Linked DNA regions of Homo sapiens: region 2 is linked to region 1. Evidence: fine-mapped expression QTL. A gene starts in region 1. The other region holds a variant in brackets. All regions are shown on one strand. Distances are from middle to middle.

What was found. PIP is the estimated chance that this variant, and not a neighbour inherited with it, causes the effect.
Region 2: its variant is the best candidate, but not a certain one, in a credible set for the expression of MANBAL in whole blood (TOPMed, PIP 0.60).

What each region holds. Positions count from the first base shown.
Region 1 is chr20:37,287,078-37,291,463 of GRCh38, reverse strand. It overlaps MANBAL (mannosidase beta like), which reads right to left and starts at 1,809. Exons shown (of 3, transcript NM_001003897.2): 1 at 1,778-1,809. RefSeq lists enhancers at 935-1,839, 1,912-2,021.
Region 2 is chr20:37,307,755-37,312,140 of GRCh38, reverse strand. All of the region lies in intron 2 of MANBAL (mannosidase beta like), which reads right to left. Among named protein-coding and RNA genes, the nearest start is that of MANBAL, 20 kb to the right of the region's middle. The variant T/C (reference allele first, on the strand shown) is at 1,779.

The DNA of each region.
Region 1 (4,386 bases):
TCTGAGAAACGATCACAGAGATGATGAGCCTAAAGAGATATGATGACTAAATGTAATAGGGTGCCCTGGATAATACCAGGACAGAAAAAGGACATTAGGGAAAAACTAAGGAAATGTGAATAAAGTACAGATTAGAGTTAATAATAATGTATCAATATTGGTTCAGTAATTGTGACATTTCAGATATTAGTAATAGGGGAAACGTGGGCTATATGGGCACTCACTGAAGTATCTTTGCGATAACTTTGTAAATCTAAAATTATTCTAAAACAAAAAGGTTATTGGGGAAAAAAAGAATGGGTCAACATTTCAAAACAAATAAATAAAAAACCACTGAGACAAGTATAGCTCTCAAGACTTAGCAAATACTAAATCTTCTCTTAAGACTGAAAAACTCAGATTTCACGACTGCCACAGGCCTTCATCTCCCAATGTTGTGTACTGTGCTGGTAGGCCATTCTTGGCTTCTAATGAAGTAACTTTAAATTCTATTGTGAAAATTCAGCTGAAAACAGACTGGGGAATAGAAACCAGTGTCAGAAGTTACTGTTTTAGGCCAGGCACAGTGGCTCTTGCCAGTAATCCCAAACACTTTGGGAGGTCCAGGAGGAAGGATATCTTGCCTCCAGGAGTTCAAGACCAGGCAGGAAAACATAGTGAGACTCCATCTCTATTTCAACTTTTTTTTAATTAAAAAGAAAAAAAAGCCGGGTGTGGTGGCTCCCGCCTATAATCCCAACACTCTGGGAGGCCGAGGCGGGTGGATCACCTGAGGTCGGGAGTTTGAGACCAGCCTGGCCAACATGGTGAAACCCTGTCTTTACTAAAGATACAAAAATTAGCCGGGCGTGGTGGCACACGTCTGTAATCCCAGCTATTCGGAAAGCTGAGGCAGGAGAATCGCTTGAACCCAAGAAGCGGAGGTTGCAGTGAGCCAAGATCCCGCCACTGCCCTTCAGCGTGGACGAGAGAGAGACTCCGTCTCTAAATAAATAAATAGAATGGCTTTAAAAAAAAAAAAAGGAAAGAAAAAGAAGTTACCGCTTTATGGCAATGGGTTGTACAGCCTGGCCCGTCCCATTAAAACAAATTCCTAAGAACCACGCAAAACTAGATTAGAATGCAAAGCTAAGCCACCTCTCTGGGCAAAGTCACACTGGTAGCCGGTGGGCTGAAACTGGTGTGCAGATGCCCTGCAAAATATAATTATTAATCTAAATGTGTTGTCACCATTTTAAAAATGTTTCTCATATTCATTTCTCGCTTCTCTTAGAATTCGTACAACAAACATGGACTGTGCACCTACTAAGGGCTTTACATTCACCACCTCGGTTTACCCCGCAGTACAAGCGTGTATGTCCATTTTAGAAGACGAAACTGAGGGCCAGAGAGGAACCGTGACTTGCCCACGGTAAGAGAGCCATACGGATTCGAACCCTGGCCAGATTCACTCTGGAGCTCAGGGTTCTCCTACTGCTCCACCCGTGGGAGGAAAGGCCCGGACCAGGCCATGAGGAGCCCTGGGTTCTGGCCCAGCCTCCGCACGAAAGCGCAGGGCTGCCCCAGGCGAGGCCCTCCGCCTCCCGGGGGGCTCAAATTCCCCTCCGGAAGTAACTTTCGAACAACCGCCGAGGGAACGTATTCAGGCCCTGAGCGGAGCGACAGCCGGGCCCACCAAGCGGCGCCGCTGGAGACAGGCCGGCCGGGAAAGCCAGGCCACCGCACCGAGGACGGCTCTCTCTCGGTTCCCACCCCACCGCAAAGCTGCGGCACTCACCTCCCGCGCCGCCGCGCCGCTCCCCCGGAAGTAGTTCCCTGCGACCCTGAGTCCCGGAAGTGACGCGCACTGAGCAACCAACCGGCTCTGTTCCGCCCGCGTTGCCAGGTTTCTGGGTGAGGCACCGCTGGGTTTTGTCGACTTTTGTCCCTGTTCTGTGGGTTCGAGCTGGACAAAGAGGTTTGGGGAAATGAAATCTAGAGCTTGTCAATTCTTTAAGCTCCTATATCACTCAGCTCGTTTCAGCAACATTTTTGTTTAATTAAAAAGAAAACAAAAGAAATTACTTCTCGGGGCTGGGCACGGTGGCTCACGCCTGTAATCCCAGCACTTTGGGAGGCCGAGGCGGACGGATCACTTGAGGTCAGGAGTTCGAGACCAGCCTGGTCAACATGGTGAAACCCCGTCTCTACCAAAAATACAAAAATTAGCCGGGCGTGGTGGCGGGCGCCTGTAATCCCAGCTGCTTGGGAGGCTGAGGCAAGAGAATCTCTTGAATCCCGGGAGGCAGAAGTTGCAGTGAGCCGAGATCGCGCCACTGCACTCCAGCCTGGGCGACAGAATGAGACTCTTCCTCAAAAAAAAAAAAAAAAAAAAAAAAAAGTTACTTATTCATCGCAATGGGCTGTATAGCTTGGCCCGTCTCATTGTAACAAATTCGTAAGAACTGCGCGAAACTAGATTAGAATTTTGTCCTATGCAAAGCTAAGCCATCTCCCAGAGCAGAGCACAGTCACAACTGGTAGCTGGTGAGCTAAAACGGGTGTGTAGCTGTCCTGCAAAATGTTCATCTGGATGTGTTGTCACTATTTCAAAAGTGTTTCTCACGTTCATTTCCTTAATTTTATGCCAGGTCCTGAGCTAGGAGCCTACAATGCAGAGAGGAGACAAACAGAAACACCTCTTGTAATTCAGACAGAAGCAAATCATTATAATTCATTCAAAAAGCATTCACTGAGCGCGTACTCTATGCTTTGTCCTTGTAACTGAGGACACAGTGCTAAAGCAGACACATACAGTCTCTGCCCTTGTGGTGCTTACAGTCCGTTGGAGGGAGACAGACTAATTAAATGAATGTGTAATCATATAACAGGATAAGTTTTTTGAAGGCAAAGAACAGTGTTCCATGATTAAGAAGGGGTGGGGGGCAAGTAGTAGGAGAAAAAGAAACCTAGATGAGAGTGTGATAACCAGCCTCCACCATAAACCCTGACGATTCTTGGCTCCTGATATCCATACCCCTCTGTAGTCACCTCCCACCAAGAATAAGACTGACCTGTATAACCCATAGGATATTGCGGAAATCTTGGAGCACGAGTTCCAAGATAAAGTCATAAAAGACATTGCAACTTCCTCTTTCCTCTGTCTTGATTGCTCATGGGGAATCCATGTTGTGAAGACACTCAAGCAGTCCTATGGAGAGGCTCGCATGGGGAGTAACTGAGCTGCCTGCCAACAACCAGCTCCAACTTGCCAGCCATGTGTATGAGCCAAGTGGCTCCAGCAGTCCTAGTCAAGCTTTCAAATGACTGTGGCCTGGCCAAAATCTTCAGTGTAAACTCAAGAGCAACCTTGAGCCAGAAATACCTTGCAATGCCACTTGAATGCCTGCCTCACAGAAATTGTGAAATACTAAATGTTATTGTTTTAAGCTCCTAAGTTTTAGGATAATTGGTTATGCAGCCTAGATAACATACATAGAGGATCAAGGAACAGAGGTTAGATACCAGAGACTCCAAAAAAAAAAAAGAGAGAGAGAGAGACCTATCTTGCCCTAAAGGAATTCAGTCTCTTAGAAGACAAATAATACACTCAACATTCACTAATCCCATACTATGTGAGGTGGCATGGGGGACCCAAAATGCATAATTTATTCATTTAAAAAATATTTATGGAGTTTCTACTCTGGATCATGCACTATGAAACTGGGAAGACAATGGTGAGTAGGTGGGATCCTACCCTGACTGTGCTTATAGACTAGGGGTCAATGTCTGTCACCCCCACTAATCAATCACACAGATAAATGTACACTTAAAAACCATGAGATGTGTTGGGAAGGAAGAAGGGGGAGCCATGAGAGAAGCAATAACATGGGAGATACAATCAAAAGAGAGGTGATGAGGGAAGACGTCCATGAGATCACATTTCTGGTAAGAAATGAAGAGTGGTGGCTCACGTCTATAATCCCAGCACTTTGGGAAGCTAAGGTGGACAGATTGCTTGAGCCCAGGAGTTTGAGATCAGCCTGGGCAACATGGCGAAACCCCGTCTCTACAAAAAATACCCAAAAAATTAGCCAGGCATGGTGGTGTGCACCTGTAGTCTCAGCTACTTGAGAGGCTGAGGCAGGACAATTGCTTGAACCTAGGAGGCAGAGGTTGCAGTGAGCCGAGGTCGCACCACTGCATTCCAGCCTGGGCAACAAAGCAATACTCCATCTCAAAAAAAGAAATGAAGAATGAGGAGGACTTTGCCAGGCAAAGAGAAGGAGGAAAAAGCACGATGGGTGGTGGAAAGGCTGGGTAGTGAGAAACGGCTTGGAGCCTAAGAATAGCTGAGGGGGTGACACTGAGGCCTGCAGGGTGCAGATGTTTAGGACAGGACTTACT
Region 2 (4,386 bases), 21 kb before region 1:
TGAATGCTTGATCTGTCTCCTCCTCACCCCAGACCTCCTCCTCTCTTCCCTACCTCAGCTTTTAGAGCCGTCACGCACCCAGTTACCCAAGCTAGATACCTCCAAGTCATTTATGAGTTCTCAGCATCCAACCTGTCCCCAAGGTCTGTCCATTCCGCTTTCCAACGGGCTCTAGACCCAGCCAGTCCCCTCTGGACACACTCCACTGCCCAGATCAGACCCAGGTCCCCTGCCGGCCCCACTGGTTGCATCTGCCTCCCACAGACTCTCCTGCCCGTGCCTCTACCTCCCCATGCTCGTCAGAGTTTACTTTACGTTCCTTTCAGAGTCGATTTTCCTAAAACAATGACAACAGGCCGGGCGCGGTGGCTCACGCCCGTAATCCCAGCACTTTGGGAAGCCAAGGCAGGTGGATCACCTGAGGTCGGGAGTTCAAGACCAGCCTGACCAACATGGAGAAATGCCATCTCTATTAAAAATACAAAATTAGCCAGGCGTGGTGGTGCATGCCTGTAATCCCAGCTACTCAGGAGGCTGAGGCAGGAGAATCACTTGAACCCAGGAGGTGGGGGCTGCCGTGAGCCGAGATCATGCCATTGCACTCCAGCCTGGGCAACAAGAGCAAAACTCAAAAAAAGTTTCGCTCAAAACAAAAACAAACAAACAAATAAAAAAAACAATGACAACAACAATCCCAATCGTGTCTGTTTCCTCCTTCAAAAACTTTGCTGGTTCCCCTTTGTGTGAGATAAATTCCAAGACACCCAGCAGGGGCTCCAGGCCTCTTGCTCGGTCTTGGCCCCTGTCTCCAGGCAGGCCCCGTCGTGCAGCCTACTCTTGTCACCCTGAGATACTGGCCAGCCAGTGTCTCCCAGTACTCTGCTCCCTTTCCTCCTCTGTATCTCTACCTGCACCCAGTACATGTGGGCACTGTGCCACGGGGAATGAAGATGAGAACGCACACTTAGTGGCTGTGTGCCATGTGGATGCTCACCGAGCCTCTCCATCGCCCTGGTGAGCCAGCCACCACGAGCCACACTCCACTGGCAAGGCCACTCAGGCTCCCTGAGGCCAGGTGACGGCCCCATGCAAGCTGCAGGGAAGCAAAGGCGGCCGTGACCCACATGACCTGGGCCCTGGGGTCCCAGCCACACAGGGCCTGTAGCTCCAAGTTCTTCACTGACAAGAATGACTCTCAATTAAGGGCTGCCTTTTCATTTCTCCTCAAATGTACGCTGCCCGTACCAGCCACACAGACGGCAGACTACAAAGCCGACAGCCCTGCCTTTAAATCTGGGAGCACTGCGCCTCCTCTCAAGCGAGCCTCAAGTTTCCTCAGCAATCACACTGTCACATATAAAAGAAAACTCCCGAGGCCAGGTGGCTCCTGGGTTCACAGTGGCGTCCTCTGTGGACACAGGCCCCATCAATAATGAAGCAGCTCTGCAGCGCTTACCAGGCCAGAAAATTGCTGCTATTCATCAGATCCAAATAATCAAATGTGTGCCACAATACATCATATCCCTTCCAGCATGAAAAGTGCATTGAATTTTATGATTTCCACTCTACAGTTCAATGTGGATTTAGTCCTGTAAATCAGGACAAAATGTCATTCTACGCAGGCCACTCTTTCCTTGAAAATGGCCCAGGTGCTATACTCAGGCATCTTCGTGCACCTTATCTTGCATGACCCTCTAAGAACAATGGAGTTAGGCAGGAATATCCTCTTCTGATGACGGAGGCAGACTAAAAGCAGGTCAGCACTCAGACCAGTCTGC[T/C]TAACGCTGAAGGTGCTGCCCATCCCAGCGGGCCATGAGGGCCTGAGACAGGGTGGGAGCTGAGAAGGCCTCGCAGAGATGAAACTAGCAGTGGCCTTGAGGAAAGATAGGACTGGCTGAAACAGAGAGCAAGGAAGGCCATCCATGTGGACTCAACAAGGCAAACGGAGACACGGAGTCCAGGATGCGCTTGGCAGGCGGGGAGAACTGTGATTAGAAAGAACAGCCTTGGGAGCTCATTCCAGACACAATTCAGCACGACTATGCTGGCCCTCCCCACTGGCTGCTCTGTGGCTCCTTGTGTGTCCAGCCGTCTCTCCCAAGAACCGGTCGGTACACATCTCCAGACCACAGGCTGGTGGAAGCATGTTTATACCCTCATCACACGGCAATCTCTCCAGAACGGGTCATTAAGTAAAAAACAGCCTGCCTCTCAATTCAACTGCAACCTCCTCCCAAGCTTTAAAACCACACAGAGCAGAAATGCACAGTTGCTTCTGTGAGTCTGTGTCCTGAGGTGTTGAGAATGGGTGGATGCTTGCCTGGGGCTCATTATTTATTTACGGCAGGCCTCACTGGCAACTAGCGGCCTCGTTTAAAATCAAGACCCTTGTGCAAAATTTTCCAGAAGAGTCCTGACCTTCTAGGCCACTGTCCTACTGCACCACAGGAATGAGCCACCTGTGGTGCAGTAGGTGCAGGTGGCTCACCATACTGATGAGCCAAAACATCATCAGGGGTCTAAACACTGCAGGGCTTTCTGGTTGGTTGTGAAGTCTCCACGGGCATCATATTGAAAGCCACCACTCTCACCATCGCCCGTGGCGAGTCCTCCACTAGATCGCAATGCTGGCCACCGGCTGTCTGTCTTCCCAGCACCTCTTTTCCATGGGGACCCTGCCCTTTCCCTATCCCATGGGGGTCTGGGGGACTCTCAGTCACTGGGGTCACAAGAGTAGGCAGCTAAATGTGGCCTGGCCAGAGACAGCACTCATTCCTGCTTCCCACCTGTGAGACAAGGTGTATGTGGCCAAGGAGAGGCCTTCCATGAGACTCAGAAGGTGAGGAGAGGCAGAGAAATGGCTTCTCTCACCTGTCAATCCCGACTGATAAGGGCACTGACTGTGGCTGCTGCAGCCATCTTTCCCAACACAGAACAAGGGCCTAGGAAGGAAGCCAGCACTCCCAGGAAAGCCAGGAGAGAGAGAGACACATGAAGCCCTGGAGACCCCTTGAACCCCTAAATCCAGCTGTCCTTTGAAATTCCCAGTTCCAAGAGCCAATACTGTTTCCATTCGGGGAAGCTGCTGGAGCTGTTTCTGAACTTGCAACAGGAAGAGTCCCCACTAATATGAGACGGTGGCAATCAACAAACATGGCAGAGTAGAAGTGAAAGGACCTGCCTTCTAGAAGCAGGCAGCTGGCTGTGAGCTGACGAGATGCACTATAAGCATATGAACAGATGAGAATAGTCAACACTGAAACTAGGAGAGTTTCTGATTCACTACCGTGTATGACTGACTATCTGCCACACAAGTTGCTGAACTCAAAGTCTACACCCACTTGCTTAGTTACCTTCGTGCACCTTATCTGGCTGAATCAACACTCTGTGTAGAAATCGATCCGGAAGAGGCTTGGAGGAGGGTTATGGGGAGGAGGAAGACAGGCTCCCCACCTTGAGAAGAAACCTGTCCCCCACTTCCCACTGCACTCCATGTAGAGAGGCTATGGACCATCTCCCCCAGAAAATGTGCCTAGGCATATAAAACCTCACATTCTTGTACACAATTTGAGGGGGATCACAGACCCCTCAAACCTATCCCAGGACTTCCCTAGAAAGCCAGGAACTCCCTATTGAGAACTTTCTTCTACTGAAACCCAACTCTGAAGGACGGCAGCTGGAACACAGTGGTGGTGTCAGACTAGGCTGGCTTTCCCCAATCCTCTCCAGGGAACTGGTGTCACATGTGCTCTCCATGAACCACTCGGTGGACTTCAGGGAGGCCACACTCTCCTGGTCTCCTGCCCACTGCTCTGCCTGTCACTTGAGAGAGGGAGAGAAAGGGAGACCCCAGCTTTGTCTGCCTAGCAGTCCCCCTGTGGGAATGGACCTTCCCATCCTCACTCAGAGGTCACTCCACAGAACCCTCCCCTCCCCTCCACTGGCCACAGCTGTCCCAAGCTGGGTCAGCCACAGTTCCTTCCCTGGGGATGCTGGAACTGAGACCAGCAGGAAGGCATGGTTGTGTTTAGTGGCTGTGCTGCATCTCACCACAGGGCCAGCAAGCAGAGAAGCAGGGTCCTAGTTAGAAAAGCAAAAGACAGGAGGGAGACAGGAAGGGAGGCAGAGGGCATGCCAGTGAGGAGCAGTAAGTCCCAGTTCCCACCACTTCCGGAGGCCCTGCGGCGCTCCTGCTCTTGGGTTCTAGGACAGCACCCGCACCTTCTCAGTCTATCTACATTGCACGGAAACTACTTCAACAGGTTGGGTATGCTCCAAGTTCACGTCTTTCCTGGATCTTCATTTCCCTTGCAAAACTCAGCAACTCATTCTTGGGTTTCAAGTAATAATGCTGTATTTGTTTGGTTTCCTTTTTTTTTTTTTTGA